Homo sapiens: one gene and its partner. The protein of the gene in region 1 interacts with the protein of each later gene in a pairwise test. Each region holds a gene or a part of one and is shown in the gene's direction. Other genes may lie near its edges.

Region 1 (4,237 bases):
TTCCCACCTCAGCCTCCCAAAGTGCTGGGATTACAGGCGTGAGCCACCATGCCCGGCTGCAAAATCAGCTTCTATCAGATCTTTATGTCATAGCTTGATTGTCATATGATGATATAAAGATCAAACAGCAATTAATTTCCTCAACAGTCAATAGCACTTAACAATTCATAACTCAGAATTCTGTTCATAGTTTATGGTAAAGGATAATAAATTTAAATAGGTTTCCTAAGAACTTGGGTCTCAATTATAATTAGTTAAGTTGGGGTTCTTTTCCTGCTAGGTAATACGTGACAAGCATATATATTTTTATTTATTATTTACACTAATGTTTTGAATGGAGGCAGAACATTTGCTTAACTAAACCCAAGAGTTGCCTTTATAAAATAAATATAAAGAAAGCCTTAGCTTTAGGAATTTTCTAATAATTCTCTCTGGAATTAGTAATGCAGAGGAAAGACACGAGGACAAGTGTATTTGCTGTGTCTTAGTTTGGTTCCTGTGATCAAGCCTGCATTCTCTGCTAGTGATTATTTGCTTTCTGTCCCAATGCCCAAGTGATATGCCTGTTTCTCTGGGGGAAGAGCCAAGAGGTTCTTTTGAATGAAAGATCCAAATAAACACAAGAACAATCTATGGAATGTTCTTTTCTTCTAACCAGGAAAGCACTACGGGGTATACAGTTGTGAAGGCTGCAAAGGGTTCTTCAAGAGGACGATAAGGAAGGACCTCATCTACACGTGTCGGGATAATAAAGACTGCCTCATTGACAAGCGTCAGCGCAACCGCTGCCAGTACTGTCGCTATCAGAAGTGCCTTGTCATGGGCATGAAGAGGGAAGGTGAGACACATTCAGTTCCAAAACTCGTGTCCGGAGAGAGGCATTTCCTAGGCAAGGGGACATTCAACTGCAATACACGAGAAGTCATGGTGCCCAAAGTCATCCTAATCTCCACTTCAAATTTCTTTCCCACAGGGCTCTAAAGAGAAGTCTGAATAGGAAATTAGGATGACTTTGGGTACTCGTGTATTGCAATTGAATGTACCCTTTTCCTAGGAAGTGTGTCTCTCCAGAGCAGAGAGGGCAAGAGGCATCTTCCTCCTCCACATTTACCCATCCTCTTCTGGAGCCCAGATGGTGATCCCCAAACTGGACCGTCTCCTTTTTTCTTCCAATAACCAGGCAGCAAGTCTCAGAGCCAAGGTTTCAGGGTCCTTATGATCTGCTCTACCAATGGATCGTCAGACTGACCTTCAGGGTGGAGGTGACTTTTCTCCTCTAATCCTAGGTCTCTCTCTGGGGCAAACTGTAGGTTTCATTTCACTCACTGAGTTTTTTTTACCTGGGTCTGCTATCAAATCTTTGATATTGGTATATTCCATCATCTTTTGGCATTACTGGCATTACACAGGTTTGACAGACCTAACCTTCCCATTCAGAGAGACCACCACTGTGTGTTGAAACCATCACATCTTTTAATTTATAGTGTGGTTTAGCTGGGTATTCTAGTATGAGAGAAAAAAACCTCAGAAGGTGCTTTCTGTCCCGTTAGTAGACAGAAAAGACTTTCCATTAAGTATCACAGATAAATTGAAGTGGGCAGTTAATTAACTAGTGAGCTCAAGCAGGGACATGGGGATAGTGGTGAATCTTAATAGATTTTAGAGTAAGAAGGTCCTGCCTCTCTTTAGGAAATAAGAACAAGGAGTTCAGTCAGGCCCAGCACGCTCCTCATTCTTGAGGAACTTCTTTTCTGTGAGAAGAGGGCATCTTACTGAAAGGGTCAATGAAGAGGGGCTCTTTGTGTCCCTGCTAAAAGTGAATGTCACCCATGAGCAAACAAATTCTTGTAATCTTAACATGTCAAGATGCTAGAGGTGGCCTTACAGAGTCACCTAATCAACTGTAACCATCCGCCAGATGAGAAAACAGGCTCACAGAGATGAACGGAGTTTCCTGAGGTGCCAAAGGCAGTTAATGAACTGACCCCAGGTCTCTGACTTTCAGATCAGCCCTAGTCTGTGTCTCCTTCCCTGCCAGGTTGTGAAGGAACTGAAGATGGCCCTCGCTGTGACATTTAACAGCAACCTCAAAAGTGAGAGACCCAAATCTCAGCTCCTGAAAATCTGCCCCACACCCCAGCCTGTTCCTCACACAGTCTTCCCCTTTCAGGAAATGGCCACTTATTTTCCAGTTGCTCAGAACAAAAACCATTGACTCCCCTCTTTTTTCACACACCACATGTAGCGGGTGAGGAAGTCTTGTCTCTTCCTCAAACTATGCCCAGAATCTTTCCATGTCTCACTACTTTTACCACTAACCCCCCAATCTAAGCTAACTGTATATTTTGTAGTGATCTACACAGCATCCTAAGACATCTCCCTGCTTCCATCTTTGTCCTCCTACAGTCTCTTCTTAGCACAGTAGCCAGAGGGAGGCTTTGAACAAGTAGATTGGGTCAAGGTGTTCCTTCAGCAGAATCCTCCAATGTCTTTCCTTCTCACCCAGAAAAAAAGGCAAAAATCTTTGTCATGACTTAAGGTTGTACATAGTCTGGATGCCCTGTTGTCTCTCAGCCTCAGCCTTCCTGGCCTCTTTGGTGATCCTCAACTATACCAGAGATGCACCCACCTCAGGGCCTTTGCACTTGCTGTCTGTCTAGAATGATTTTTTTTTCAGGTATCTGATGGCTCACTTTTTCTCATCCTTCGTATCTTTACCCAATTCTCACTTTCTTGGTAAAGCCTTGCCTGGTTATATCATCTAAAATTGCACCAGCCACCCCCAACCCTTCCTTGTCTCTTTTACACAGTAGTTATCATGATCTAACACTTGTACTTATCTTGTTTACTGTCTGTATCCATGAAGGCGGGGGCTTCATCTGCTTTTTTCCCCCACTGCTTTATCACCAGTGACTAATACATTGTAGCCATTTAATAAATTGTTGAATGAATAGTTTAAACTGAATGCTGAAATCAGAAGTTTTAGAAGTGCAGGAGCTCCTAAAAATGACTCATTCATTTATTCATTGAGTATTAGCTGAGTGCCTACTCTGTGCTTACGTCATACTTGCTGTGGCAGTGGGATCAATGATGTTACAGATTGGAGCATGCGATATGAAATACCTGCTGGTGAAGAACATCTTTTTTCCACCAGGATAGAATTGGATACTCCTTGGAGCTTCCCCCACCATGATTATCAAAATGAAACTAATGACTACAAGTATTTCTCCCATTAACAAGAGTCCAGTGACTGCAGGGTCATTTTTTTCCCTCCTAAAACACTTGAGATAAGTTTCCAATTGACTTGGAACAGTAACAGTTTTCATTAAGCACATGATATTGAATTAAAGGAAAGTGAATGGTCTCAGTCAGAGAAACCATCATTTCTATTTCTCTAGAGTTATTCTAATCCATCTCTGAAAATGCAGGCTGAATATCCCCAGCTCAGTTAGGGACAGAGTGGTCAATAGGCCAAATGTTGGGAACTGTGGTTCGTTAAATGTTTTTAAAAAAGGAAGGAAAACAGGGACATGTGAACTGTAAGAGACACTTCTATGGTTTGGGTACTTTAATAGAAAGTTGGACCCAATTTTTGCTCCTGCATTTTTTAAAAGAATGTGGAGAAACAGAAAGAATAGTGAAAAGCTGAGTAGTAAAAATTAGGAGAGGGAAAGGAGCTCTTAGGGAACTTTCTGAAGAGATTGGCACCATTTACCCTGACAAAGGGAAGGCAAAGAAGTGAATCAATTCCTCCGCTGACTATATAAGGGGGCGCATTTCAAAAGGCTACTGGATAGCCTGTCCACCGCCATCATTTCTGGTCTTGATTTATAGAATTTGGGGCTCAGTTTGAACACTTTCTTGAGGACAAGAATAATAACATCCTGGAGCAGATAACAGAGAGACCATGGAAATCACACAGATAAAGAGATGGAATTGGGGTAGGTACAGAATTTACCTGCCTGGGATCAGGGGCCAGGACCTGTTGCCCTTTTAGGATAAATAATGTTAAAGCTAGAGTGGACATTTTCTATTCTCTAACGTAACACGTCCATTTCCTGAAAGACAAATTAGAGGTTTGGAGAGCCTAGCCCACACAAGCCCACACAGCAAGCACATGGCAGACCCTGTATAGGACTGGGACCCTCTGATTAGTGGGCCACCTCAGGAATTCTGGAATGTCTATTTCCATGATTTCTTGTCATATACATGTAGTTTCAAGACTGGTGAATGGATT
Region 2 (4,922 bases), on another chromosome or scaffold:
GTTGAAGGTCTCAAGAGACTTGCCTTCCTCCTCTCGGTAGCTGCCAGTACTCTTACCATTTCATGAGTTTTCCCCCAAGCTTGGCTGTGAAATGTGATACCTATTAGCTTCCGCAGCACCTTTCTCCCAACTTCCTTGCTATACCTGATGACAACTCTTCAGGCCTCTTATATTCCTAGGATCTTGCTATTAATCACTATAGGGATAAGTAAAAGTAATATATACAAAATAATTGCATAACAGAATAATATAGGGCAGTTACATAGAATGATTCTTGCTGTTTAATCCTGGAAAATGTGATCCCCGAGGATTCACATTTTAATTTCTGCTCTTTATTTCTGAGGATGGAGTCACCGTTTTCCCCTTCTGGCTACACATTTAGATGCATTTCAGGTCTGATGATAGTTGCAATGTAAAAAAGAATAGCAAGGCCTTTGGTTTCTGTAGACAATTTGGACCAGATAACTTCCAGACTGGGTAATATCCGGTTTATTAGTGTTACTGGATGGGAAGTCTTGACTGAGTTGTCTGGGTTTTTGGCGTGTTGAACAAAGAATTGAACAAAACGTAGAAACAAAGCAACAAAAGAAGCAACGAAAGACAAAACAACAAAAGAACGAAGTAACAAAAGCACAAATTTATTGAAGCGAACCAAGTGCTTCAAGAGTCCCAATTGCAGTGTTCTTAAGGGTTACTAGGCTAAAAGAATTTGGTAAATCCCTAGGTGCCCTTTACAGTCGTCCAATTGGTTGCACCCTATGAAGGATTGGCCTGCGACCAATCAGAGGCTGAAATGGAGATGGCCGAGGACAATCAGAGGCGATGTGGAAACTTCTGTCTTGTAATCACAGGAGTGAAGGTGTGGCCTGTATGCTGCCTAGTCTTGCCTAGAAATTGCTGCACCTGCTGTTCTTTTGCTTATGCCTTAACCCTTGGTTACCCTAATTCCCTATTCTCTTGCCTCATTAGGTCTTTACCCTGACTAAAAATGCACTCATCTAGCTGGGACAAATCCTACACTGCATTTGTCCCATCTAGATGAGTATTCTAGCAGAGTACATGGCACATGAGTAGGCATTCAAAAATTCAACATACAGTACATTTTGTTACCTATGTGCCAGGTGTCGGGCAGGCTGAGTTAACAGCTGAACAGAAACCTACCTACCCAACGTGCTAACTTCTATACAGCATGGTCGTGCATCCAAATCAAATGGAAAGCGGTATGGGAGATCTGGAAAGGCCTCCTGTGGGTGGCATCTGACTACCTAAATTCCCATCCCAGTTTCACTTACTGACTTTGACACTTGGAACAAGCAGCCTCTCAGTGCCTGTTTTCCCACTGGCAGGTAAATGGGCTAATGACGGTATTTCTGGCACTAGACTTCGTTAATTAATGAAAAGCACATAGAAGAAAACAGCCTGGCTCTCTAAGTGGGCAGTGCGATTCCCAAGGACGGCACTTCGCCTGATAGTCTTCCTCTAGGCTGAGAAGCCAGAGTAAATCCATTTGATTTTCCTACCACACAGTGCCTTCTCCCCAGATGAGTTCAAAGCTTTAAGTCTATCCAGTTCTGTCCAGACGCGTCTGTTCATCTCCAACAGGCCCACTAGAGAGGCGGGTTTTCCAAAGCCTGGCACGGCCCACTGCAGGTGACGCCCTCTGCCCTCCAGCGCCCTCAGGCCTCTGGGGTCCACCCTTCCTCCCCACCCGACTCCGGAACCTCTTCCCGCGCCCTGCCCGGGCGCCTGGCTGCTTGGGGTAGAGGCCTTCCGCCACACGCGCGGCCCCGCCCCGGCCTTCACGTGACCTGGCGTGCGGAGCGCGCACGCGGGAACCCGCGCTGGAGGCGGGCGAGGGCCGAGGGGCAGCTAGGGAGCGCGGCTTGAGGAGGGCGGGGCCGCCCCGCAGGCCCGCCAGTGTCCTCAGCTGCCTCCGCGCGCCAAAGTCAAACCCCGACACCCGCCGGCGGGCCGGTGAGCTCACTAGCTGACCCGGCAGGTCAGGATCTGGCTTAGCGGCGCCGCGAGCTCCAGTGCGCGCACCCGTGGCCGCCTCCCAGCCCTCTTTGCCGGACGAGCTCTGGGCCGCCACAAGACTAAGGAATGGCCACCCCGCCCAAGAGAAGCTGCCCGTCTTTCTCAGCCAGCTCTGAGGGGACCCGCATCAAGAAAATCTCCATCGAAGGGAACATCGGTAAGGAGCCTCCGGAAATGTGGGACGCAAGGCTGGGGTGTCGCGGCAGTGGCTGAAGCTTCCCTTCGCCGCATCTCTCTGCAGCAACTCGGTGAGGGCTTTCCCTCCAGCCTGGCGGTGTGGACGCGGCCTCGGCTTCCTTTCCCACCCAGAGCATCCTTCCCTTACCTCCCGCTCCACGGGGTGACTGCGGTCCCCGGGGTCAGACTGGGCGCCAGGCCTGCGGTCTCTGTGAGGCGCGCTTTGAACCTCTGCTCCCTCTTTGTTGGGAACTCGCAAAGGGAAGCGGGGGAAGGGTATTAGATTTCTTGAGGTGTAACTTACATTAAATTCACCCTTTTTAGGTGTACTCTTCTATGAGGTTTGACAAACATTATGCCTTTTGCTATCACCATGATCGAGATACAGAACATTTTCATCACCTTAGAAAGTTCCTACCTGCTCCTTTGTATTCAGCCCCCTCCACCCTTCCTATTCCCTGGCACCCACTGATTTGATTTCTATCCCTGCAAGTGTTGCCTTTTCCAGAATGCCATATAAATGGAATCATAGGCTATATCGCCTTTTGTGTCTGGCGTCTTTCATTTAGCATAATGCTTTTGAAATTCATTCATGTTACTTGTGTCTGTAGTTTGTTTCTTTTTATTGCTGAGTAGTATTCCATTGCATGGATGTACCATCGTTTATCCATTTTCTAGTTGTGGACCTCAGGGTTGTTTACAGTTTTTTAGCTATATTATTAGCGAAGCATTGTTTTAGCTATATTATTAACGAAACTCGAAACATTCGAGTACAAGCAAAGAGGTCTTTAATGATCTTAATAGCATGGAGTTCCTCACCCCTTACTCCACATCCAAGTAAACATTGGATTATGATTCAAAGACCACTAACGTTTCTGTTAACTCAGATGGGGGGCAGACTAGGCCATGCCTGTCACTTTGCAAGATACACACCAACGTCCGATTCTTCTGTATCTCCAACCACAGGAAACCTACCCCTGAAACTTCCTGTTTTGATAGATTTAAAAAAAAATTTTTTTAGCTCCAGGTTGGGTGCTGGTCATTCATGCATACAGCAAATTTTTTAAAATTCTTACCACATTCAAAGCACTGTACCTTCTTGAAAAAGGCCAGGCAAGCAGATGCTTTAAGCATTCAAATGAATAGAAAAACTGCATTCTCAAAGAGGACTTCTTATTTCATTGCTCCAGAATTAAAGCACCAGTAGAAAGACCATATGATATAATTAGCAATGTAAGTTATTTGAGGGTGCATGTTTACTAGTATGGAATCTCTGACAGCTGCTTACTGAATAAAGAAGACCATATATAAAGACAGGAGAAAGTGGCTGAACAAAGCCATCTGAAAAGTAAATTTGAGGCAGGGCATGGAGGCTCATACTTGTAATCCCAGGATTTGGGGAGGCTTAGGCAAGAGGATCACTTGAGTCCAGGAGTTCCAGATCAGCCTGGGCAACATAGTGAGAACTCATCTCCACAAAAAAATTAAAAAATTAGTTGCATGTGTTGGTGTGCCTCCAGCTACTCAGGAGGCTGAGGCAGGAGGATTGCTTGAGCCCAAAGATCAAGGCCACAGTGAGCCATGATCACACTACTGCACTCTAGCCTGGGTGACAGAGCAAGACTCTGTTAAAAACACAGAAACAAAACAGTAAAGTTGAATGAATAACCCCTCGGATCAATACCACAATACATTCATCCCCTTTCCCTCTCTCCAATCCAGTTAGGTAGCATCATATTTAGAAATATTTCCTCAAAGCATCTTTAATCTTTTCAGCAGCTGAAATAATTTCCTAATATATCATCCCATCTCCAGTTTCTCTTAACTACTTCTGCAACGGTCTTTTTGTATGCAAATGTCATGTGTTATCCCCTGCTTAAAATTCTTCACTGATTTTGCCTTTACCTACACTGAAAGTAGTTGTGAACTGATAGCCTGCAATTGCACAATATTGGCCTGCACAGGTTGAAAAAAAATTTTACTGGCCAGTGGCTCAAGCTTGTAATCCCAGTGCTTTGGGAGGCTGAGGCAGGAGGATTGCTTGAGGCCAGGAGTTTGAGACTAGCATGGCAACATAGTGAGAACTAGTCTCTAAGAAAAATAAAAATAAAATTAGGCCAGGCACAGTGGATCACGCCTGTAGCTCCAACTACTCAGGCGGCTGATGCTGATGTGGGAGGATCACTTGAATGTGGGAGGCAGAAGTTGCAGTGAGCTGAGATGGCACCACTGCACCCCAGCCTGGGTGACAGAGTCTCAAAAAAAAAAAAAAAGCCAGTTGTGTTAGCATGCACGTTTAGTCCTAGCTACTCAGGAGGCTGAGGTGGAGATCTTTGAGACCTATAGTTTGAGGCTGCCGTGAGCTGTGGTTGTGCCACTGCCCTACAGCCTGGGCTACAGAGTGAGACCCTGTGTCTAAAGAAAAAAAAATTAAATTTGTTGCTAACTCGAAAACGTTTTGAGATTTCCCATAAACAATTAGATTCTTGGCTTCTTTTGAAAAATCTGAAGATCTGTTAACACCGGGCCTGCATTTCTGTATGACAACAATTGGTGTTTAGATGGAGCATGTTCCTTGCCATTTTTCGTCTCCCTGACACTGAGACTTTGTTAGTTACTGTTCATTATTGGTCTTGCACTTTTGTTCATGTCTCCTTCACCTTATTTGCCAGATCCAAATAAGCTGTAAATGCACAAATTGTTAAGCT

What was found. Proteins that work in one complex are often made in the same cells at the same time.
Region 2: the proteins of RXRG (region 1) and DCK interact in a two-hybrid assay, tested with the Homo sapiens proteins (one large-scale study listed by BioGRID and IntAct).

Annotation. Positions count from the first base shown.
Region 1 is NC_000001.11:165,413,642-165,417,878, reverse strand, and holds part of RXRG (retinoic acid receptor RXR-gamma), read left to right. Parts: intron 1-658; coding exon 659-838; intron 839-4,237. UniProt on the Homo sapiens protein: Receptor for retinoic acid. Retinoic acid receptors bind as heterodimers to their target response elements in response to their ligands, all-trans or 9-cis retinoic acid, and regulate gene expression in various biological processes.
Region 2 is NC_000004.12:70,991,733-70,996,654, forward strand, and holds the start of DCK (deoxycytidine kinase), read left to right. Parts: upstream 1-1,916; 5' UTR 1,917-2,103; coding exon 2,104-2,194; intron 2,195-2,216; exon of another isoform or gene 2,217-2,285; intron 2,286-4,922. UniProt on the Homo sapiens protein: Phosphorylates the deoxyribonucleosides deoxycytidine, deoxyguanosine and deoxyadenosine. Has broad substrate specificity, and does not display selectivity based on the chirality of the substrate.